Linked DNA regions of Homo sapiens. The protein of the gene in region 5 interacts with the protein of the main gene of each other region in a biochemical or structural test. Each region holds a gene or a part of one and is shown on either strand. Other genes may lie near its edges.

What was found.
Region 1: the proteins of DDB2 (region 5) and PAQR3 form a complex in vitro, tested with the Homo sapiens proteins (one study listed by BioGRID).
Region 2: the proteins of DDB2 (region 5) and XPC form a complex in vitro, tested with the Homo sapiens proteins (one study listed by BioGRID).
Region 3: the proteins of DDB2 (region 5) and SIRT6 form a complex in vitro, tested with the Homo sapiens proteins (one study listed by BioGRID).
Region 4: the proteins of DDB2 (region 5) and RAD51 form a complex in vitro, tested with the Homo sapiens proteins (one study listed by BioGRID).
Region 6: the proteins of DDB2 (region 5) and NR5A2 form a complex in vitro, tested with the Homo sapiens proteins (one study listed by BioGRID).
Region 7: of the proteins of DDB2 (region 5) and USP24, one has a biochemical effect on the other in vitro, tested with the Homo sapiens proteins (one study listed by BioGRID).

What each region holds. Positions count from the first base shown.
Region 1 is NC_000004.12:78,911,378-78,915,438, reverse strand, and holds the end of PAQR3 (progestin and adipoQ receptor family member 3), read left to right. Parts: 3' UTR 1-3,405; downstream 3,406-4,061. Other genes in the region: BMP2K (BMP-2-inducible protein kinase), read right to left, coding at 3,406-4,061. UniProt on the Homo sapiens protein: Golgi-scaffold protein which modulates its interactors acitivies by anchoring them to the Golgi apparatus. Functions as a spatial regulator of RAF1 kinase by sequestrating it to the Golgi apparatus.
Region 2 is NC_000003.12:14,161,602-14,165,101, reverse strand, and holds part of XPC (DNA repair protein complementing XP-C cells), read left to right. Parts: intron 1-168; coding exon 169-289; intron 290-3,500. UniProt on the Homo sapiens protein: Involved in global genome nucleotide excision repair (GG-NER) by acting as damage sensing and DNA-binding factor component of the XPC complex. Has only a low DNA repair activity by itself which is stimulated by RAD23B and RAD23A.
Region 3 is NC_000019.10:4,173,609-4,176,586, reverse strand, and holds the end of SIRT6 (NAD-dependent protein deacylase sirtuin-6), read left to right. Parts: intron 1-649; coding exon 650-745; intron 746-826; coding exon 827-907; intron 908-1,435; coding exon 1,436-1,559; intron 1,560-1,640; coding exon 1,641-1,970; 3' UTR 1,971-2,478; downstream 2,479-2,978. UniProt on the Homo sapiens protein: NAD-dependent protein deacetylase, deacylase and mono-ADP-ribosyltransferase that plays an essential role in DNA damage repair, telomere maintenance, metabolic homeostasis, inflammation, tumorigenesis and aging.
Region 4 is NC_000015.10:40,701,674-40,705,173, reverse strand, and holds part of RAD51 (DNA repair protein RAD51 homolog 1), read right to left. Parts: intron 3,369-3,500; coding exon of another isoform or gene 3,248-3,368; intron 1-3,247.
Region 5 is NC_000011.10:47,221,474-47,224,973, forward strand, and holds part of DDB2 (DNA damage-binding protein 2), read left to right. Parts: intron 1-3,500.
Region 6 is NC_000001.11:200,044,710-200,048,209, reverse strand, and holds part of NR5A2 (nuclear receptor subfamily 5 group A member 2), read right to left. Parts: intron 2,768-3,500; coding exon 2,626-2,767; intron 39-2,625; coding exon 1-38. UniProt on the Homo sapiens protein: Orphan nuclear receptor that binds DNA as a monomer to the 5'-TCAAGGCCA-3' sequence and controls expression of target genes: regulates key biological processes, such as early embryonic development, cholesterol and bile acid synthesis pathways, as well as liver and pancreas morphogenesis.
Region 7 is NC_000001.11:55,096,865-55,100,364, reverse strand, and holds part of USP24 (ubiquitin carboxyl-terminal hydrolase 24), read left to right. Parts: intron 1-495; coding exon 496-594; intron 595-1,806; coding exon 1,807-1,889; intron 1,890-2,280; coding exon 2,281-2,422; intron 2,423-2,647; coding exon 2,648-2,767; intron 2,768-3,192; coding exon 3,193-3,413; intron 3,414-3,500. UniProt on the Homo sapiens protein: Ubiquitin-specific protease that regulates cell survival in various contexts through modulating the protein stability of some of its substrates including DDB2, MCL1 or TP53.

The DNA.
Region 1 (4,061 bases), on a different chromosome or scaffold from region 5:
ATATTAAAAACAAATGTACCCAAGCGCCTCAAAACTAGTGATATTAATACACTTGTACCTTCTAACAGTGCTTACGTGAAGTACCAAAACCTAAAATAAACCAAGCAGAGTAGCTGACTTGTAAGAAAACTGCTCTGCCTGGTGAACTTCAGCATAGAAGAGTGGGCTCCACCTTAGATTTTCCACCAGCAAGAGGACAACAGTCTATCACTCTTAAACAATAAACAGGGTAAGACTGAAAGTTGTGTCTATTTGCAAATCCGGATAATGTCGTAACTATACCCAACACGTACACAGGGATTGGGGTAAGGGAAAATAATTACACTCCTGAATAAATGTTCTAGTCAGTTAAATTTTCATCCGGCCTACAACCTTTCCTCCTCCACCTATTATACTTACCATGCAATTTTTGTGTCTTAGCAGATACATTCTTCAATGCCATAAAAAGCTGATCTTTTTAATACTAACATTTTACTGACGTGATATTAAAATAAGCAAATGGTCCACTTTTTAAAGGATTATTCAAAATCAACAAGCATTATTAAAGCTGTTAAGAAACAACTTTGGCCTCAAGATTTTTGCTAGCTTCATAATAATTTACTTCTCTTAGTGATGTTCAAGTATAACAGGTTTAGTTATAACTACATCCTAAAGAAGCACAGGGGACACCCAAATAATATTAGGGAAAAAAAACCCCAAATATATATATATATATATATTTGCTTAGTGGTACATATATAATAACCTTTCTTCCTTCCTTAAACCAGAATTGAACCATCCCATAATAGAGCCAAACTTTTATTGAGTGCTGTGTGCCAGGTACTGTGTTAAGCACTTTCACATATCTTGGGAGCTTTATTCTCATAATTCTCACAAGGGAATAACCTGAGCATCAGCTGTGTGGAGTGACCTACACCTTGACCATGATTCTGGGGGATGATGAATGAAAATGCAAAGTATAAATCTATACTCCTTAGGAAAATGCCTCTACTACAACACAAAGGAATCTCTCCATTTCTATCCTATTGAACCCCCAATTGAATCCTGTATCTTTTCTCTGAGCTACAATCTTGAAAGAAGAAAGTCACTGTGCTGTGTTATAAGAATGTAAATATTTTATGCTGTCAGTTGTTTCCTCAGAATTTATAAGTCAAAGGGTCTACATCAGTGTCAGAATCATTTAAAATTATTCAGTGTATTGAAAAGCAAGTAAAACTCTAGGTATTTCATGTTTACATCTGAAGGAGACATTAGTTCATCCTCTACCCCTTTTCTAAATGATGAAACTCATGAGGTCTAGCAGAGACCAAGGACTAATACAATCAAGAAGCATATTGTGTACACCTCAACAGATTTTCATTAAAAAAAATTGTTTGATACAAACCTACTGTAGTTCATGAATTTACTATGTGTAATCATCAACTCTTCACTTTTAAAAGAAAGTATCACTTGAATCTATTTTGTAAAGTTTTTAAACATCTACTTGAGCATTTGCATTAGCAGTATTAATCAACCTGAGAATCAGAAAAAAAAAAAAAGGTGCAAACATATTTGCCTTTGGCACGAGGACAAGTAATTGGTGCAGTCCAGCTCTAAATAATAATGTAATGCTTGGTCTGCCTCTGCTACATTGTGATTCACATATTGCTTCCCTATCCACAAATCTATATTTGATTTAGCATATAAAAGAAGGGAAAAAGCAATAAAAAGACAAATATGTGGTTTAGTTACATATACTTTGCTTCTTTCCAAGTTCAGAACTGTGAAAATAGGCAAATAGCTTATCCCATTGGGGCACTATAAGAGATTCCTAATAAAATTACTCGTAAAATATACTTTGAGATCGAAGAGAGTTAATTTAAAATATAAAAATCAAAGAGAGTGCCAGTTGATGAGTTTCTACTCCTTTCTGTAAATAGCATTAACTGTTCTAGAAACTTCCAAATGTTAATCTGATAGCGCAGCACAATTATATCTTAAAATAGTCATAGACACAGGAAGCACAGATACTATATTCACATTAATTCACATATGTAATCTCTATCATTAAATGATTTCTATAAAACCTCAAGTTTCTAATTAGGATTTGTGGTGTAAAAAAAGGCAAATTGGTAGCTGGGTTCTTTTCAGTAAAGACACAATCAACTAGCAGAATTAAGATGCTAGTCCACCTTATATGCATTTTAGGATCTGGTATATTAGTGCAGAGGTACTTGCAGCAGGATGCATGAATCCTGCCTTTATATAAGGCTTTGTGGGTGTCACCATTCTGTGCACTTTATTAAAACTACTCCACCCCCCAAAACCTAATAAAAATAATTGTTGCTTATGACTTGGGGAATATTTGGTGAAGTTGCTAATAAAGTACATTGTTAAATGCAACATGATTTCACATTGTAAATGTCTTGAAAATTCAGTTTCCGCTACATATTTTCTTCATAAAATAAAATTTTTATACAACCCTTGTCCTCCAATTTTTCCAATAATCTGCTTTATTAGGGCCATCACAATAAAAGTTTGGGGCAAGAAGCCATGCATAAAGTGTTTCTAAAGTAGTGAATGTTTTCTGTTCTGTATCTTTTTTTCTTCTTATAATTTCTTTACAAATGTCAGATATTTCTCTTCATATTTTTGTTCTAGGCTTCTGTGCGACGATAGTCCATTTTTTTAATTTGTTTTAACTGACAAAAATTATATATATTTATCATGTATAACATTGTTTTGGAATATGTAAGTTGTGGAATAGTTAAATTGAGCTAATTACACATTATTTCATATGCTTATCATTAGATATTCCATTTTAATGGCACTTGTTTTTAAAAATGAAACAGAGTTTTAGGCACAATAGTCAGTTACTTCTGGCTCTGCTTTGTGGAGAAAGGTGTATGGACTGAAATCTCTGCACTCTCCAGATAATAACTTTCTAATGCTTTAAGATAACTAGATTGTTTTTAACTGTCTGGAAATTAAAAGAGACCTTAAAAAAAATTCACAAGTGTAACTAGTGTATGTAGAAATAACCCTAATTTTAGGGATATGCACATAAAAATGACATTCTGATATCAAAAATAACAGTTTCACTGTCCCTTCTCAGTGGCTACACACCTAGAAAGGTGCCATGTGCTTTCACTGGAAGTACCACACTTGCATTTCTGTGTTGTGATGTCAGTAGCAGAAACCCTTAGTTAGAGCTTGCAATTTAGCTCCCTTTTCTCCTGAAGAGGAATCAAGTTACTACCCTGTAGAGATACTTCATTCTTCTATTTGGTTTATTTAGAAATCACCTATTCTGACTGATCTTTAAGAATGAATGCTATAAAGAGCTACCAAATTTTCTTTCAAATTCATAAAACTGTTCACACTTTTTTGAAACAGGAGTTAATGCCGAGAATCCATCAGAAGTATCTACTGTTTAGAAGGAAATGGAGCAGCACCAAATGGGTCTAATTCGACTGGTTGGGACTGTTGGGACTGATGTGGAGTGATGCTTTGCACCACAAGTTCTGTAAAGGGCACGGCACCAAAATCATCCATTTTCAATACATCTGCACTATGGAATGACCCATGTAGTGAATTTTGTCTTGGCCGCCCTGGCAGGACAGTATTGTGATCAGCACGGATGTCGCTCAGGCCCTGATGTGGAGGGTGCCATGACAGGTCTGGAGAATGGAAGGGCTTGGCACCGAAGGGGTCCAACAGGCTCTCCTCAGGTTGTAAGACATTCCCCCTATCTTTCCCATCAGTCAGTGCAACACTAATGTTCTCCTTGGAGTCTGAGATGGTTAAAAATTCATTGCTACTTTGAGAGTCTCGGCGGCCCACTTTTTTGTGCCTGCGAGCCCTCTCTGGAGTGCGATAGGTAGGCTTCAAAGTCTTCTTTGTGCTAGTTGGCGTGCCATGATGCCGCTTCCCATTACTTTTGGACATATCCTGCTTTGTGCGCCTTTGGCGAGAGGACAGTTTCTGTAAGCTGCGCTGTTTGACTTTTTGCTGCTGGCTCCCCGTTATTTCATCAAAGGGCACAAGCCCAAAAAGGTCCTCATTGCTTTCACTTTTACTTG
Region 2 (3,500 bases), on a different chromosome or scaffold from region 5:
CTGAGCTGGGTCTGCAGTGATGATAGGAGTTAGCTAGACGGGCTGGGGAAAGTAGGACAGAGGCAGGCGGGTCTCACGATTCACTCCCTCTTTTTATTTTCTTGGCTGGAAATGAAAATTCCCCTTTGCCCTGACCTCTGACACAAGGAATGCCTGCTTTCTCCCCAGGTTCATTGGAACATTTACAGTTAATGCAGAACTTTCAGCCAGTGAACAAGATAACCTGCAGACTACATTGGAAAGGAGATTTGCTATTTACTCTGCTCGAGATGATGAGGAATTGGTCCATGTAAGTGATCCTCCCGGATCACTGTTTTTTATCAGTACTGTTAACTAATGATAATGGCAGCCATGTGCCAGATGCCATTCCAGGTGTGTTACCGACACTACCTTATTCAGTCCTCATAATGACGTTGATAGCTGCTGAAGCCCAGAATAGCTACATGATGCCTCTAAGGTCTTTTCCTTGGTGAGCCTGAGAATCGAGATTGGGATCAGAGTCTGAGTGGAGGGCCTGTATGCTTTCCTCCCTATCGCCTCTAGTTGTGGTGTACCAAAAAGCCCGTAGTTTTTGGTCAGATGTGCTAGAAATATTTTCATTAATTTTTCCAATTTTGTCTTCAGAAGTCCCAAGGAAATGTTTTTTCAAATTGGATGCTGAAGTCCTTGAGAATGTGTTTTTGTATCTCACATTTGGGTGTTGACACTGGCAGGCAGCAGTGCAGTGAGGAGGGTTCTGTCCATAAAAAGGAATCGTGATGGCAGAGTGCTCCAGGGACAGGCAGGCTTTATCAAATGCCTACAGGCACCTGTAGGTAAGGCTCTGTCTGAATAAAACAAAAACAGAGATGGAAATGTGGTTTTATCCCTAGAAGATTCCTATTAATCCATACAGTTCAATCTGGGAGTCCCAGATTCTCTGGAGAAAAAGATGGTTGACATCTTTAGTTCTCTTCTTCCGTGTTGGCTTTAACAAGTCTAAGATATTTGGCAAGGCTGATAATTATGTTATAATGTGCTGCCAATTTTTTTGTTTGTTTGTTTTTGTTTTTTGAGACAGAGTCTCTCTCTGCCGCCTAGGCTGGAGTGCAGTGGTGCAATCTCAGCTCACTGCAACCTCCACCTCCTGGGTTCAAGTGATTCTCATGCCTCAGCCTCGCGAGTAGCTGGGATTACAGGTGCCCACCACCATGCCTGGCTGATTTTTGTATTTTTAGTAGAGATGGGGTTTCACCCTTCACCCTGTTGGCCAGGCTGGTAACTCATTAATATTTTAGTATTGTCCTCCCAGACTTTGTTCCTGTGTATGTGTGTACGTATGTATTTGTTTTGTTTATTTGTTTAAGCAAAATAGGATCACACAGCTTTTAAAGAGGGGGTACAATTCAGTGACCATTTAGTACATTTACAATGTTGTGCAACTACCACCTCTATTTCCAAAATGTTTTTGTCACCCCCAAGGGAAACCCTGTATATACGCATTAAACTCCTCATTGTTACCCCCCTGTCCCTGCTCGTGGCAACCACCAATCTGTCTTGTGTCTCTGTGGATTTACCTATTTAGGATATTTAGTATAAAAGAAATTATACACTATGTGGCCTTTTCTGCCTGTCTTTTGCTTAGTATAATGTTTTCAAGATTCATCTGCATTTTAGCATGTATCAGTATTTCATTAATATTTATAGCTGAATAATATTCCATTACATGTTTATACATTTTCTCTATCCATTTATCCATTGGCAGACATTTAGTTAGTTTCCACCTTGTGGCTGTTGTGAAGAGTGTTGTTAATAATGTCTATACATATATTTATTTACATACCCTGTTTTCTGTTCTTTTGGGTATATACCTAGGATTGAAATTGCTAGGTCATATGTATATTCTATATGTAATTTTTGGAGAAACCACCAAACTGTTTTCTGCAGTTACTGTACCATTTTACATTGCCACCAGCAATGAACGAGGATTCCAAATCTTTACCAACACTTGGTTATTTTCTGATGTTTTGATTATAGTCATTATGATGGGTGTCAAGTGATACCTCATTGTGGTTTTGATAGCATTTCTCCAATGACATGATGATGAGTGTCTTTTCATGGGCTTCTTGGTCATTTGTGTATCTTTTTTGAGGACATGTCTGTTCAAGTATTTGCCTATTTTTTAATTATGTTGCCTTTTTGTTGATGATTTGTAAGAGCTCCTTGTATATTCTGGATATTAGTTACCTATCAGATACATGCTTTCCACATGGTTTCTCCCATTTTGTAGGTTGCCTTTTTACTTTCTTGATGAAGTCCTTTGATACCCAAAAGTTTTGAATTTTGACAAAGTCCAAGTTACCTATTTTTCTTTTGTTCTTTTTGCTTTTGGTGTCGTATCTAAGATTCCATTGTCAAATCCAAGGTCATAAAGATCGACCCCTGTGTTTTCTTGTAAGAGATTTATAGTTACTGCTCTTACATACGTTGTGAGTTAATATTTGCATATATCAGGTAGGTGTTCAATATCATTCTTATGCATGTGGATATCCATTTGTCCCAGCATTATTTGTTGAAGAGACAATTTTTTCAATGGGGCTTGGATGGTCATGGCATCCTTTTCAAAAATCAACTGGCCATAAATGTATGGGTTAATTTCCAGCCTCTCAATTCTATGCTGTTGGTCTACATGTCTGTTCTTACGCCAGTACAACACTGTTTTGATTACTATAGCTTTGTAGTAAGTTGCGAAATCAGGAAGCCTCAGTGTAACTCTGTTCATTTACAGTGTGCTTTGGTTATCTGGGGCCTCTTGCAATTCCATATGAATTTGATGATCTGTTTTTCCATTTCTGTGAAAAAGCTGTGGAATTTTGATAGGGACTGCACTGATCTGTAGATTAATTTGGGTGCCATTGCCATCTGGTTATTAGGTCTTCCAGTCCATAAGCATGGATGTCTCTCCTTTTATTTTTGTCTTTAATTTCTCAGCTGTATTTTGTAATTTTCAGTGTACAGCCTTTTACCTTGGTTAAATTTTTTCCTAGGTACTTTATTCTTCTTGATGCTCTTGGAAATAGCATTGTTTTCTTAATTTCTCTTTTAGGTTGTTCATTGCAAATGTATAGAAACACAACTGATTTTTTTGTGTTGTCTTGTACCCTGCAGCTTTGCTGAATTCATTTATTAGCTCTACTAGCTTTCTTGTGCATTCTTTGAAATTTTCTATGTATAGGATCATGCCATCTATGAGTAGATCATTTTACTTCTTCCTGTCCAGTTTGCATGCCTTTTTCTTGCCTAATTGCTCTGGCTAGGACTTCAAGTACAATGTTGAATAATGGTGGTGACAGCAGGCATCCTTGTTTTGTTCCTGATAATTAGAGGGAAAGCTCTCAATCTTTCACCATTAAGTATCATACTAGATCTGGGTTATCACGTTGACTCAGTTCCCTTCTATTCCTAGTGTTCTGAATTTTTTTTTTTTTTTTTTAATCATGAAAGCCTGTTGGATTGTCTCA
Region 3 (2,978 bases), on a different chromosome or scaffold from region 5:
GAGACAGTCCCGCTCTGTCATCCAGGCTGGAGTACAGTGGGGCAATCTCGGCTCACTGCAACCTCCGCCTCCCGGGTTCAGGCAATTATTCTGCCTCAGCCATCCAAGTAGCTGCAACTGCAGGCGCCCGCCACCACACCTGGCTAATATTTGTATTTTTAGTAGAGACGGGGTTTCACCATATTGGCCAGGCTGGTGTCGAACTCCTGACCTTGTGATCTGCCCGCCTCAGCCTCCCAAAGTGCTGGGATGACAGGCGTGAGCCACCACGCCCGGCCCAGTATAACGATTAAAGTCAGGAAAAGTAAAGTGGACATCGCCTTCTCTAATCCCGAATCCAGACTCGGCCTGTCGCCCCCATGCTCCAATTGTTCCTGTTTCTCCTGGTCCGGGATCCCATGCTGGGTCTTGTCTCTCGAGCCCCTTCGTCTGTCTGGGACAGTTTCCTGCTTTGTTTTCTGTGCTCCGGGCACCGAGCAGCATCCCAGCCCGTTATTCATGGAAGGCTACTCGTTCCGTGTCGCTGGGTGCTAGTTCTGGTCACCTGTCCACCCCCCACCTCCCTGGGAGAACGTCACCCTAGAAACAGTGCGAGAGTCACCCATGGGAGCTCACCTGGTCCCATCCTCCCCCTTCCTCCCTGACACAGGCAGTACGTCCGAGACACAGTCGTGGGCACCATGGGCCTGAAGGCCACGGGCCGGCTCTGCACCGTGGCTAAGGCAAGGGGGCTGCGAGCCTGCAGGTGAGCCACCCCCACCCATGCCCTGGGCTCCAGGGGAGGCTGCGAGGCCCCTGAGGACTCTCCTCAGCTTCCTCATTGCAGGGGAGAGCTGAGGGACACCATCCTAGACTGGGAGGACTCCCTGCCCGACCGGGACCTGGCACTCGCCGATGAGGCCAGCAGGTCTGACCCCCCACCCCCAGGGAGCCCATGGTGGGGCGGGGCGGGACGACAGCAGAAACACAGCCAGCTCCAGCATGGGACAGTGGCTGAGGCTCACAGGCAGTGAGGGGAGGCTTCCTGGAGCAGGTGGGCCAGGCCAGGGGCTGCACACACGCACTCACACACACTCGTCACCTCATGGCTCTGGGTGGGTGCTACACAAGGAAACCAAGGCTTCCGCCAGGTGTCTCCTCTATCCAGTGCTGCCCAGCCGGGAGGTGACCGAGCCAGGGTCCCACCCTAGGTGTCCAAGCTCTTACCACACTGTGATACTCCCCGGAAGTGTCTAAGGGCCCGCCCAGATCAATGACCCCGCCAACGGACCGCAGAGGAGGGCAGGGCGGGATCCCAAAGGCTGACTCGGGAGTGGGGCTGGCCTTGACCGCCCCGGTGAGCACAGATGGCCTAGGTGTGAACCGGCCCCCAGGGCTGGCTCGGGATGTTGGCAGGAGCAGGGCATCAGGCTCAGCCCACGCTCCCCGGCCCCAGGAACGCCGACCTGTCCATCACGCTGGGTACATCGCTGCAGATCCGGCCCAGCGGGAACCTGCCGCTGGCTACCAAGCGCCGGGGAGGCCGCCTGGTCATCGTCAACCTGCAGCCCACCAAGCACGTAGGTGTCTGAGCCTACCCCTGCCCAGGGCCACCATGCACCCTCTGTCCCCCACGCCTGACCCGTCCCGCCCCTCGGCAGGACCGCCATGCTGACCTCCGCATCCATGGCTACGTTGACGAGGTCATGACCCGGCTCATGAAGCACCTGGGGCTGGAGATCCCCGCCTGGGACGGCCCCCGTGTGCTGGAGAGGGCGCTGCCACCCCTGCCCCGCCCGCCCACCCCCAAGCTGGAGCCCAAGGAGGAATCTCCCACCCGGATCAACGGCTCTATCCCCGCCGGCCCCAAGCAGGAGCCCTGCGCCCAGCACAACGGCTCAGAGCCCGCCAGCCCCAAACGGGAGCGGCCCACCAGCCCTGCCCCCCACAGACCCCCCAAAAGGGTGAAGGCCAAGGCGGTCCCCAGCTGACCAGGGTGCTTGGGGAGGGTGGGGCTTTTTGTAGAAACTGTGGATTCTTTTTCTCTCGTGGTCTCACTTTGTTACTTGTTTCTGTCCCCGGGAGCCTCAGGGCTCTGAGAGCTGTGCTCCAGGCCAGGGGTTACACCTGCCCTCCGTGGTCCCTCCCTGGGCTCCAGGGGCCTCTGGTGCGGTTCCGGGAAGAAGCCACACCCCAGAGGTGACAGGTGAGCCCCTGCCACACCCCAGCCTCTGACTTGCTGTGTTGTCCAGAGGTGAGGCTGGGCCCTCCCTGGTCTCCAGCTTAAACAGGAGTGAACTCCCTCTGTCCCCAGGGCCTCCCTTCTGGGCCCCCTACAGCCCACCCTACCCCTCCTCCATGGGCCCTGCAGGAGGGGAGACCCACCTTGAAGTGGGGGATCAGTAGAGGCTTGCACTGCCTTTGGGGCTGGAGGGAGACGTGGGTCCACCAGGCTTCTGGAAAAGTCCTCAATGCAATAAAAACAATTTCTTTCTTGCATCTCAGTGTGTTTACTTTATTTTATTGAGCCAGAGTCTCACTCTGTCACCAAGGCTGGAATGCAGTGGCGTGATCTCAGCTCACTGCAGCCTCTGCCTCCTAGGTTCAAGCAATTCTCCTGCCTCAGCCTCCAGAGTAGCTGGGATTATAGGTGTGTGCCACCACACCCAGCTAATTGTTTGCATTTTTTGTAGAGATGGGGGTCTCACTATGTGACTCAGGCTGGTCTCAAACTCCTGGGCTCAAGCAGTCAGGCCACCTTGGCCTCCCAAAGTGCTGGACTTAACGGGCGTGAGCCACTGTGCCCAGTGAGTGTTTAAATTCCCTATTTGTGGCAGGTCCTCGCCCCCCTGGGTCAGGAGTTCGTGGTCCCCTCCTCCCTGGACCAGCTGCTTGGGCTCCGTTGCAATCCCTGCCCCTCAAGCCTGGGGGCCGAGGAACAAGGGCTCACCTCTCCCCCCACCCCGCCTCTGGAGGGATCAGGCCAGTTTTCTGATGAT
Region 4 (3,500 bases), on a different chromosome or scaffold from region 5:
GGCTCCAAGAAAAGCAGTGCTTAGAGAGAAATTCATAGCTATAAACAGCTATATTAGAAAAGAAGGCTGGGTGTGGTGAATCACACCTGTAATCCCAGCACTTTGGGAGGCTGAGGTGGGAGGACTGCTGGAAGCCAGGAGTTTGAGACCAGCCTGAGTAACAAAGCAGCACCCTGGCTCTAAAAATGTTTTAAAATTAGCAGGGTGGCTGGGTGTGGTGGCTCACCTCTGTAATCTCAGAACTTTGGGAGGCTGAGGTGGGCAGATCACAAGGTCAGGAGTTCAAGACCAGCCTGACCAACATGGTGAAACTTCCTCTCTACTAAAAATACAAAAATTAGCCGGGCGTGGTGGCACGCGCCTGTAGTCCCAGCTACTCGGGAGGCTGAGGTGGAAGAATCACTTGAATCTGGGAGGCGGAGGTTGCAGTGAGCTGAATTTGCACCACTGCACTCCAGCCTGAGAGACACAGCGAGATTCCATCTCAAAAAAAAAAAAAAAAATTAGTAGGGCATGGCTGGGCATGGTGGCTCATGCCTGAATCCCAGCACTTTGGTAGGGTGAGGTGGGCAGATCACGAAGTCAGGAGTTCAAGACCAGCCTGCCCAATATGGTGAAACCCCATTTCTACTAAAAATACAAAAAATAGCTGGGCGTGGTGGCGTGCGCCTGTAGTCCCAACTACTCAGGAGGCTGAAACAGGAGAACTGCTTGAACCCGGGCGGCGGAGGTTGCAGTGAGCCGAGATCACACCACCGCACTCCAGCCTGGGCAAGAGAGTGAGACTGCATCAGAAAAAAAAAAAAAAAAGGCCTGGCGCGGTGGCTCACGACTGTAATCCCAGCACTTTGGGAGGCTGAGGCAGGCAGATCATGAGGTCAGGAGATCAAGACCATCCTGGCTAACACGGTGAAACCCTGTCTCTACTAAAAATTAGCTGGGCATGGCGGCACGTGCCTGTAATCCCAGCCACTCAGGAGGCTGAGGCAGGAGAATCGCTTGAACCCAAGAGGCAGAGGTTGCAGTGAGCAGAGATCACGCCACTGCACTCCAGCCTGGGCACAGAGGGAGACTCCGTCTCAAAAATAAAATAAAATAAAATAAATAGCAGGGCATGGTGGGGCGTGCCTGTGGTCCTAGTTACCTGGGAGGCTGAGGCAGAAGGTTTGTTTGAGCCAGGAGTTGGAGGCTGCAGTGAGCTATGATCACACCACTGCACTCCAACGTAAGTGACAGAACAAGACTCTGCCTCTAAAAATAAAAAAGATAAATCATAACCTAACCTTCCAAAGAAAAGCAAACAAAACAAAGCAAGCAGAAAGATGGAAATAATACAGGTTAGGGTAGAAACTATTAAGTAGAGGGCAGAATAATAGAGAAAAATCAATGAAACCAAAAGCTGGTTCTTTGAAAATATCAACAAAATTGACAAACTTTTAGCTGCATTGCCCGAGAAAAAAAGAGAAAAGACTCAAATTACTAAAATCAAGAATGAAAGAGGGGACATTACTACTGACTTTATGTAAATAAAAAGTAGTATAAGGAAACCCTGTGAGCATCTCTATGTCAACAAGTTAGGTAACTTAGATGAAATAAGCAAATTCTTAGAAAGATAAACTACCAAAACTCACTCAAGAAGAAAATCTAAATAGACCCATAGAAAGTAAAAAGATTAAACTTTCATAATGTTTAAATTTCCCATGAAGAAAAAAAATCAACAAATAGCTGAAAAATCAATGAAAGTTTATTCTCTAAACTTTTCTATATACTTAATATTTCATTTAAAAATTCATTGCACGGCCAGGTGCAGTGGCTCACGCCTGTAATCCCAGCACTTTGGGATACTGAGATGGGCGGATTACCTGAGGCCAGGATTTTGAGACCAGCCTGGCCAATTCATATACTCACTGTCATTTCAGTGCAACAAACATGTACTAGACACTTACTTCGTATGAAACATAGTCCCAGGGACTCTGAAGGATATGGAGAAAAAGAAGAGCTGATTCCTGCCTCCACAGAGCTTATAACTTAATCAGAAAGATAAACTATACAAAATAACTATAGTACAAGTAGATGTGATGGGTAATATGAGAAGTACTAACAAGCCATGGGAGCTCAAGGAATATAGACTACTTCCTTTGGTGAAAAACAGGAGAATGTATTAGCAAAGACAAAACTGGTAGAAATGGTCAGGCTAGTGGCATGTGCCTATAGTCCCAGCTACTCAGCAGGCTGAGAATTCCTTGAGCCCAGGAGTTTGAAGCTGAAGCTGCAGTGAGCTTTGATCATGCCACTGCACTCCAGCCTGGGCAACAGAGTGAGACTTTTCTTTTTTTTCTTTAAAAAAAAAAAAAAAAGGTGGGCACAGTGGCTAGTGCCTGTAATTTCAGCACTTTGGGAGGCTGAGGTGGGCAGATTGCTTGAGGCCAGGAGTTTGAGACCAGCCTGGGCAACATGGTGAAACCCCGTCTCAACTGAAAATACAAAAATTAGCCACGTGTGGTGGTGGGAGCCTGTAATCCCAGCTACTTGGGAGGCTGAGGCACGACAATCACTTGAACCCGGAAGGCAGAGGTTGCAGTGAGCAGAGCCAAAATTGCACCATTGTGCTCCAGCCTGGGTGACACAGCGACACTCTGCCTCAAAAAAAAACAGAAAACAAACAATACAATCATAATCTTTACTGGCCAGAAACAAAGAACATAAAATATTGAAAAGTAAAGACACGTAAGTCTATACCATATTGCATCTCAAATCATGTATTCTAGGTTTGCATTGTTGTGTTCATAGAAACAGAGAAGTGACTTGATTTCTGAAACCAAGATCTCGCAAGGCAAAAAGAAAAGATCCTGTCAGCATTTGTTCATTCACAAAAACTGATACCCAAAAAGCGAAAACAGAAAGACTTTAGGGACCCCTACTGGCTTAGTCAATATGACAATCTTTTAACAAAAATACTGTTAGGGACTCAGAACCCTTATTTCCAATTAAGCAACCACTTCAGCAAATATTCATTTGAGTAATCCAATAAATTTATCTAACGCTAACAGTAATCGATACGTGAAAATACAATTTTATAAATAAATATTTGCGGTGGGGCGCGGTGGCTCACACCTGTAATCCCAGCACTTTAGGAGGCTGAGGTGGGCAGATCACAAGGTCAGGAGATCGAGACCATCCTGGCCAACGTGGTGAAACCCTGTCTCTAATAAAAATACAAAAATTAGCTGGGTGTGGTGGCACATACCTGTAGTCCCAACTACTCGGGAGGCTGAGGCAGGAGAATCACTTGAACCTGAGAGGCGGAGGGTGCAGTAGACCAAGATCACGCTATTGCACTCCAGCCTGGCAACAGAGCGAGACTCCGTCTCAAAAAAAAAAAAAAAAAAAAAAAAAATCTGCTTTATACTACATAAAACTTCAAGGGTAAAGGCAATAAAACTGTGTAACTATATAAACACTGAAGAAATAGGTTCATAAAACAAAATGTAACCATGGGG
Region 5 (3,500 bases):
TCACTCTATTGCCCAGGCTGGAGTGCAGTAGCACGATCTCGGCCCACTGCAACCTCTGCCTCCTGAGTTGAAATGATTCTCCTGCCTCAGCCTCCTGAGTAGCTGGGATTACAGGAGCCTACCACCATGCCCAGCTAATTTTTGTATTTTTAGTAGAGACGGGGTTTCACCGTGTTGGCCAGGCTCGTCTTGAACTCCTGGCCTAAGGTGATCCACCTGCCTTGGCCTCCCAAAGTGCTGGCATTACAGGTGTGAGCCACCGTGCCCAGCCTGAATTTTATATTTTTGGTAGAAACAGGGTTTCACCATATTGGCCAGGCTGGTCTCGAACTCCTGACCTCAAGTGATCCGCCCGCCTCGGCCTCCCAAAATGCTGGGATTACAGGCACGAGCCACTGCACCCGGCCTGGGTTTTTAAAATTATATCTTTATTGAGGTATAGTGGACATAAACTGCAGCTATTTCAAGTGTACAATTTGGCTATTCTCAGCCTATGGGGTAGTCCTACTCCAGAGAAGCAGTAAGAAAAAAAGAATAAATTGTACAATTCCATGAGTTTTGACATATGTGTACAACTGTGAAGCCATCACCACAATTAAAATAACTCCCATTTCCCCACCCTTTGTTGAATATTTGGAGAGTGATAGATAGATGAGTTATCTATGCCCCTTTGTAATCCACCCCTCTCTACCCAATATCTTATTCACTGTAAACTGCTGATCTATTTTTTATTTTTAGAAATTAATTTACATTTTCTAGAACTATATATAAATAGAATCATAGAATATATGGTCTTTTATTTTTGTTCTAGCTTGTTTCAGTATAATTATTTGAAATTTATCTACATTTTTATGTGTAGTTTTTTTTTTCTTTCTGAATAATGGTTCATTGTTTTTTGTTTTAAGACAGGGTCTTGCTGTGTCACCCAGGGATGATCATGGTTCAGCATAGCCTCAACCTCCTCAGCTCAAGCGATTCTCCCACCTCAGCCTCCTGAGTAGCTGGCACTACATGCACAGGCCACCATACCTGGCTAATTTTAAAATTTTGTTATAGAGACAGAGGTCTCACTGTGTTGCACAGGCTGGTTTCAAACTCCTGGCCTCAAGCTATCCTCCTGCCTTAGCCTCCCAAAGTGCCGGGATTATAGGCGTGAGCCCCTGCACCCAGCCACATTGTACTGATATGATACAGTTTATTCATTTACCTGTTCAAGGACATTTGAATTTTTTTCTAGTTTTTGAATGCAACATATAAAGCGACTGTGAACATTCACGTACAAGTATTTGTGTGGATATATGTTTTCATTTTTCTTGGGTAAATACTTAGCAGTGGAATGGCTGGATTATAGAGTAGGAATGTTTTAAAGATACTTTTTAAATGAGAAAAGGTTTTTCTATTTGCCCACATATTGTCATTTCCAGTGCTTTCATTCTTTCATGTGATCCAGATTTCCTTTTGGTAATATTTTCTTTCTGCCTGAAGAAATTCCTTTCATATTTCTTATAATGCAGATTGGTGATAAATACTTTCCACTGTTGTTTATCTAGAAAAGTATTTTGCCTTTATTTTGAGGGAGGATGTTTTTGCTAAGTATAGAATTCTAGGTTCACAGTTTTTAAAATTATTTAACTTTTATTTTTTAATTGGTAAATTAAAATTGTATTTTATTGCATACAATATATTTGTTCACAGTTTTCTCCTGTCAGTACTTTAAAGATGATGTCTAGGCTGGGCGCTGTGGCTTACGCCTGTAATCCCAGCATTTTGGGGGGCCAAGGCAAGTGGATCATTTGCGATCATGAGTTTTAGACCAGCCTGGCTAACATGGTGAAACCCCGCCTCTACTAAAAATACAAAAATTAGCTGGGTGTGGTGGCGCTCACCAGTAATCCCAGCTACCCGGGAGGCTGAGGCATGAGAATCTTGAACCTGGGAGGCAGAGGTTGCAGTGAGCCGAGATGGTGTCACTGCACTCCATTCTGGGTGACAGAGCAAGACTGTGTCTCAAAAATAAATAAATAAGGCTGGGCGCGGTGGCTGACACCTGTAATCCCAGCGCTTTGGGAGGCCGAGGCAGGCGGATCACGAGATCAAGAGATTGAGACCACCCTGGCTAACACGGTGAAACCCTGTCTGTTCTAAAAATACAAAAAAAATTAGCCAGGCGTGGTGGTGGGCGCCTGTAGTCCCAGCTACTTGGGAGGCTGAGGCAGGAGAATGGTGTGAACCCAGGAGGCAGAGCTGGCAGTGAGCCGAGATCGGCCACTTCACTCCAGCCTGGGTGACAGAGCAAGACTCCGTCTAAAATAAATAAATAAATAAAGAATAAAAATAAAGATGATTTCTAGTTGGGCTCAATGGTTCATGCCTGTAATCTCAACACTTTGAGAGGCTGAGGCTGGGGGACCTCTTGAGGCCAGGACTTTAAGACCAGCCTAGGAAACACAGCAAGACCCCATCTCTACAAAAAAATCTTAAAAATTAGCTAGTGGCTTGAACTTGTAGTTCCAGCTGTTCAGGAGGCTGAGGTGGGAGAATTGCTTAAGCCCAGGGGGACAAGGCTTCAGTGAGCTAGGCAAGCCTGGGTGACAGAGCAAGATCCTGTCTCAATTAAAAACAAAACAAAACAAAACATCCTGATGAGAAGTCTGCTACTATCCTTATGTTCCTGTCTATGTAATTTTTCTTCTGGTCGCTTTAAAAATGATTATGATGTGCTTGTGGGGGGATCACTAAGCTTCTTTGATTTATGGATTTTTTTTTTCTTTTGAGACAAAGTCTCACTCTGTCGCCCAGGCTGGTGTGCAGTGCCACAATCTCGGCTCACTGCAACCTCCACCTCCAGGGTTCAAGCGATTCTCCCTGCCTCAGCCTCCCGAGTAGCTGGGATTACAGGTGCCCACCACCTCACCTGGCTAATTTTTGTATTTATTTATTTTTATTTTATTTTTTTAGTAGAGACAGGGTTTCACCATGTTGGCCAGGCTGGTCTTGAACTCCTGACCTCCAGTGATCCGCCCACCTTGGCCTCCTGAAGTGCTGGGATTACAGGCGTGAGCCACCTTGCCCAGCCCATTATTTCTTACAAAGAGTTCAAAATGAAGAAAAAGAACAGTTCTTTTTTTCTTGGGACTGCGATTACATATGGTCCTGCAGGTGGTTGATGCACTGTTCATTTTTGTCTTTTTCCCTGTTTCATTTTGTGCAGTTGTTCACTGATCTTTACTTCTGTAATATCTAACCTTCTGCTGTCAATCCCTCCCTCCCTCCCTCCCTTCGTTCCTTTCTCTCTCTTCTCTTCCTCTTCCTTTTCTCTTCTCTTTCTTGCCTGTGCAGAGCAGGGCTGCTCCATAGGCAAAGTAGCCCAGCGTATTTTTCATTTCAGATACTGTATATCCCCTCTAGAAGTTTAATTTGGATTTTTTTTCATGTCTTCCATTTCTCTCCTCATATTTATTATTTCCTCTTCTTTCTTTTTTGAGATGAGGTCTCACTCT
Region 6 (3,500 bases), on a different chromosome or scaffold from region 5:
CTTATTCCTTCCTCCACGCATTCGGTCGGCCCTTACAGCTGTTGGGGGTGGGGTGGGGGGAAGGAAGGAAAGGTATAAATAAGGTGCAAATTATTAGCATTCTTCAGATATTTAGAAATGTAAATCGACAAGAAGTGGTATGTGTGTGGTTGTTTTCGTTACAATAGCCCACAAAGATTTCCCAAAAAACCATGTCCTCTTTATTTATGAATTCCTTCCTCCAAGTGTGTGTCGTCATCAAAAAAATACTTTGGCCACATAGGGACATATTAACCCTTTTGTGGATGGAGGAGAGTTCATAATTTTTGTTAGACATAGAAATATTTCACATAGGCGTGGTGCGGTGGCTCACACCTGTAATCCCTGCACTTTGGGAGGCCAAGGCGGGTGGATCACCTGAGGTCAGGAGTTCAAGACCAGCCTGGCCAACATGATGAAACCCCATCTCTACTAAAGATACAAAAAATTAGCCAGGCGTAGTGGTGGGTGCCTGTAATCCCAGCTATTCAGGAGGCTGAGACAGGAGAATCGCTTGAACCCGGGAAGTGGAGGTTGCAGTGAGCCAAGATCACACCACTGCACTCCAGCCTGGGCAACAAGAGTGAAACCCCTGTCTCAAAAAAAAGAAAAGAAATATTTCACATTGCTAAGAAAGAGTATCAGTCGTTCTACTAAGAGTATATGCTTTTATTATGCCAGTTCCTTATGGAAACCCAAACTGCTTTGGGGTTTTCTTTTGCAGGGGTGTGGAACTGAGTTACCCAATTTTGGATTAAATTGTGAATACTTTCCCACAAGATACCTTCCTCCCTGAAAGCCATTTTGGCCACCTTGTTGCAATAACAAAAGGGGTGGGGACATGTTCTTGGAAAATCATGTTCACCTGGACTTGATGAGCCCACATCAGATGACCACCAGTTACTGCTTTTAATTTAAGTAGAATTGGACATAATTAAAACAAATTCATTTCAGAAGCTGTCAAGAGAGTCTTCTGCGACAGTGGTGTGTGGAGTCTGCGGCCATGACTAATAAGTTAGTTAGCAGTTCCCTCTAAGTCCATAGTGGCCAATGGCAATTAGACAGAAACTAGAGACCTCTGATAGCTTGTGACATATTGAACTTGCTGGAGGTTAAGTTTTTGAGCTTTTTATCTTGGATTAGTATCACATTAAAAATTTATTGTAAATTCTAAGTATACAGAATATTGCACAAGATTATAAAGAGTTTTTCATCTGGATGATAATTTATTGAATATTCAGTTGTTTCATATCACTCCTAAGGAAGCATGAGCATGTACCACAAGTGATTTACAATTGTGAAAGCTTAACTTAAAAAAAAGAAAGTTTAATTATTTAAGGTAAAGAAATGCAGCCTTATTATTTTTGTTGAAAAGGAATTAAATGACATCATGCAAAATCACAACATTTACTTATCTTCTGAGTCTCTTACTGTATGTAGTAAGCATCTACCACAATATTTTGCTATTTGGGAAATAATAGTGATTGGTAATAAGAAAATTAATAAGCATCAATTATTTCCTTTCATGATCTCTTAAAAATGATACTGACATTAACAGTCCTCATAATAACCAAAGTGGCTACCTCTGTTCGGAAGAAGCGTGTTAGCTATTCAGCAGATTTATATGATTTTTTTTTTTAGTATTTCTATCAAGTATGAGTTCCATATAACAGAAAAGTTCCAAATAAAAATAGCCTGTGCCTCATTGATCAAATAAAATGCACTCTTGTATCTAGCACCATCGGTGATATGTATCCCTGTTATTGCTTTATTTGCAGTATATTTAATCCATGGAAAGCAAGCAGGTCAGAGGCTAGAAAGCAGCAACATACCATAGTAGTCCATGAACTACAAATTATTTACAGCAGTCACATATTAACTTTACTGCCTGCCAATCTGTACATTGTAGTATAGGGTCTGCTCTTTCAACAAAGTTCAAGTGTGGCTTTTCAGGAGCCACTTTCTTGTTCTTTTCAGACCTTTGCTAATGATTTAATAGTTCGTTATTTTTCATGTTTCCTGATTCTCAATTTTTTATTTTGCAGCCTCAGTCATTATCTTTTAAAAAAATACATTTCTACACTATCAAAGATAATATCCTACATGAGAAACTCCTTTTCACCATTAAAGGCTTTAACTCTTAAGAATCATGAAATTAGTAGTTAACACTTGTGACAAGCACACCTCTTTTAAAAAGAATTGAAATCAAACTTTTCCAAGGGTATCTTGATTTAAAAACTCAAAGAATATTTTACTTTTAATAGTTTTACAAATTATTCTTGTTTTCAGTTGGATTGCTTTAGTCTTATTTTCATAACCTGATCTTTTTCCCTTTTTTGTGTCTAATGCATCTGCTCCCCAGACTAAAAAAAAGGGGGTGGGCAGGGGAAAGACAACTAATATTTTAAATTTTTTTCCTAGTAGATTTCACCATGATTAAATGAGACTCAGACTATTCTGCAGATGAAACATAGAAAGATCTTACAGTATTGTCGGTAGTGTTAAAATGCTGGGAAAATAATGTTACCATGCTATAAGTACAATGTTGTTTTACAGTTCATGTCCTTGGAGAGTTTTAATAGGCAGTAGTCTTTAGAAGAATCTTACCTTCTAGCTTCATTCCAACACTTAGACATTTTTGAAAACGACAGTAAGGACAACGCTTTCTCTGTGTTTTGTCAATTTGGCAGTTCTGGTTTTCTATACATGTGTACCTTTTATTATTTTGGACTGTTCGCTTAAAAAATCCCTATAAGACAGAGAAAATAGTGAGACGTATTATAAATCTAACACCCGTCTTTTCCATTGTTTCATTTTAAGAAAATCACCAGTAAATCCTCTCATTGCACTATTTGAGCCCTTATGTGGTTCTGTGGTTTATTTTACATTTCAGCAACATCAACCTTCCCAAACTGTGCCAGGCCATGGTGGAGATTTTTCTGGCATCAGTTTTATTCTTGAAGAATTACGTCAAATCCTGGGGAGATTTGGCTACCCACCATTTTATCCCAACAGTCAGAAAAAATACACTCTATATAGATAAATTTTTTTTTAATCTATTTTCCTATTATCCCACATGTTCCTGATAGAGGTACTCATGAAGTCCTGGCATTGTTTTTAAGTAGTCTGATATAATTTCAGTGATAAACCATTGCAAAATGCCAGTGGAAAAAACTGAATAGCAAAACACCTCAGATTTTTTTTTTTTTTTAACAAATGTCAACACTGGATAGTTAAAAGCAAAAGGATTTAAAGAGTAAAATGGGAAAATGCTCATAATTCCACTGGAATACATTCAAGTATGGGAACTGTTCTTAAAAAGGCAAAACTAATGGAAGGAAAAAGCATGTATCACAGATAGCTGAATTGTAGCACACAGGGTATGAGCTTTCCTTATATTTTATATAAAAGAATTAATCAAAAATAAAATGTGTAGCTTTATAATATGAGATTTACCAGGATAGTATTCATATTTAACCCAC
Region 7 (3,500 bases), on a different chromosome or scaffold from region 5:
ACCCCCATGCCCGGCTAATTTTGTGTTTTCAGTAGAGATGGGGTTTCTCCGTGTTGGTCAGGCTAGTCTTGAACTCCCGACCTCAGGTGATCCGCCTGCCTCGGCCTCCCAGAGTGCTGGGATTACAGGCGTGAGACACCACATCCGGCCAAGAATACTATTTTTAAACATTGCTTTACTGTGTTTCACATATTGGAGGATCACCTTGTGTTTTTCCCCATAGGTTGATTTGTTTCTAAGAGAGAAATTCTCTGTTCCATGGCCTAGATCTTACCCAGTACCCACTTTTGATTTCAGAGACTTGTTATGATTGTAAGGGGACTAGAAAAAAGGGTGGATGGCTGAATACAAGCTAGTCTCACTTCACTAGAAATGTCCACATCCTAATAGTGAACCTGATTTTTATAAGCATTTAAGTGCTCTTTCATGTTCCCTTTCTACCACATTCAGAAATTGCTACTTTTCCTTTAAAAACATTTAATTTTTGTTATATAGATTTTCAAGATGTGGAATAAAGAACTTTATGTGAGAGAACAGCAGGATGCATATGAATTCTTTACTAGTCTCATTGATCAGATGGATGAATACCTCAAGGTAGTAAAAGTTGTACTTTCCCTCTAACTCCCTCAAACTCTAATTATAGTATGAGAATAGTGTCTTAGCATTTGGGGTTACTATGAAACTGACGAATCAGAAATTGATTATCTTTAACATAAGAACTATAATGTATTCTGTGTTTAAACATCAAAACATAACACAGATCAATAGAATTGTATATTTTCTCTTTTTTTTCTTTTCTTTTTTTTTGAGACAGAGTCTCGCTCTGTCACCCAGAGTGGAGTGCAGTGGCACAATCTCAGCTCACTGCAACCTCTACCTTCCAGGTACAAGAGATTCTTGCACCTCAGCCTCCCGAGTAGCTGGGATCACAGGTGTGCACCACCACGCCCGGCTAATTTTTGTACTTTTTGGCAGAGATTGGGTTTCGCCATGTTGGCCAGGCTGGTCTCAAACTCCTGGCCTCCAGAGATTCACCCACCTCAGCCTCCCAAAGTGCTGGGATTACAGGCTTGAGGTACCATGCCTGGCCTAGAATTGCATATTTTCTTAATTCATCTAACGCTCAGTAAAGTATGTAACTCTTAATCTCTACTACATAGTAATAACCATTCCTACCTACATATTCTTTCTGTGTGTCTACTGAAATAATCTGGCCTCAGAAGAGTGCTGCAGTCACTGGTGAGCTGATGGCCCTGTGCAGAGCAGAGAGTGCTCTGGCACAGGGGAGAAAGGAGCCAGATTAAAAAGTTATTCGTGGTGCTGTTGAAACCCAAAGCTCTCTACCTCTACCCTGTAAGCCATGTGGCAGACTTCCTAAACGGTATTGCCTTCTCAGATCCCGCTGTCACTGCCAGCATTGGCCTCTCATCAGTAGGCACAATTCTTCCATTTTTTAAAGTAACTTGCAAATTGATGGCATTCTATCCACAAGAAAAAAGAAAAGATTGCTGAGAGTTGCCCCTAACTTGGTCCTTGTAGCACAGGGAGAAGGATTCAGAATCACCCTGGAGAACACTCTCTTGTCATTAGCTCTACCTGACCCATCCCTCCTCCTCTTCCTCTTCTGATCGTCTGCATCACTCTGACAGTGGGGCCAATAATGGGTTTAGCCTCCATTCACCACAGCTGATACTACCAGAATGACGCGTTTTGTTTTGGTCCTTAAATTGCAATGTGTTAATAAAATTCTGTATACTCATAAGTTCAGGAGGCATCACTTAAAACTGTAACTTTTCATTCCAACAGAAAATGGGGAGAGACCAAATTTTTAAGAATACATTTCAGGGCATCTACTCTGATCAGAAGATCTGTAAAGACTGTCCTCACAGGTGAGTGAAGATATCACCGACACAGGAAAAATGATCATCCTTTTGAAGTGATTTGTTTAGTATGTTGTAAATTTTGCATTTGTTAAGAGACTTAGAACTCTCTCCCTGTCAACAGATCTATAAGTATTTAGTGACTTAAATTTCTTTGCTTTCTACTTCCAGAAGGAGAAAAAATTTCTTTGTGGGCTTAAGAAAATATTCATTGAAATTCATAATTTTAGGCAATTCTTAATTGTCACAAAGTGGCATTTTAACTTAGTAATGGACTTTTAAAATATTGAGGGACTCCCAGATTAAAAATGTAGTTCTGTGTTCAAGCTTAGGTATTATGATAATTGAAGAGTTTTAAATTCCATTGTTGATTGTGGGTTTTCTGTTATTTCCTAATCAGATATGAGCGTGAAGAAGCTTTCATGGCTCTCAATCTAGGAGTGACTTCTTGTCAGAGTTTGGAAATTTCTTTGGACCAATTTGTTAGAGGAGAAGTTCTAGAAGGAAGTAATGCGTACTACTGTGAAAAGTGTAAAGAAAAGGTATTATGTTTGCCCTTTTTAAAAAACAAGATTAATTTGTTATTCGCATAGTGCGTCTTTGTTTTATGTAAAATCAGTATTAAGCTCCTACTGTTATTTCCATTAGATTGTGTCATTACTTGTTTTCACATGGATCAGAAAGGCCTTTGCATTAATTACTGTGCTGTTTTATTTTCTCCATGGAGATCATTCAGATTTGCTCTTTTTCCTTTTTTTTTTCTTTAGAGAATAACAGTGAAAAGGACCTGTATTAAATCTTTACCTAGCGTCTTGGTAATTCACCTAATGAGATTTGGGTTTGACTGGGAAAGCGGACGCTCCATTAAATATGATGAACAAATAAGGGTAACTTTTTTTCTTCCTGAAATTTTTCACAACCATTCATTTCCTCACTCACTTCTTTTTTTTTCCTTTTTCAATTTTCATATTCTGTCTACCATGTTAAGGCTGTTGTCTCAGCATTATGAAGAGCCCCTTATCTTAGGCAGCTGCTGTTACCGGAATAGGCAGATCTGGAAACAGTGGCCCTCATTTCTAGAAGGCATCCTAGTGATTACTATGAAGGAAAATGCCTTCCTTAGGGCTCAAACCAGAGGCTACTTTAGACGTTCCCAGACTTAACATTTCTGAGATTTTATACTTGAACTGGTGAGGTAGTTGTTCCTAGCTTAAACTAGGAAAACACTTCCTCTTATTTGGATCTCACTTAACTGGGTACTGCTGTATATGTTAGTAATCAACGTTAATATGGTCTTTTTGCTTCTACATAGTTTCCCTGGATGCTAAACATGGAGCCTTACACAGTTTCAGGAATGGCTCGCCAAGATTCTTCTTCTGAAGTTGGGGAAAATGGGCGAAGTGTGGATCAGGGCGGTGGAGGATCCCCACGAAAAAAGGTTGCCCTCACAGAAAACTATGAACTTGTCGGTGTCATCGTACACAGTGGGCAGGCACACGCAGGCCACTACTATTCCTTCATTAAGGACAGGCGGTAAGAGTTTCCTGAGGCAGCACTTACTCACTTTCTGCCCTCCCCTGCTCTCCGTTATCATCCATACTCACCGCTGTGGTGCAGGGA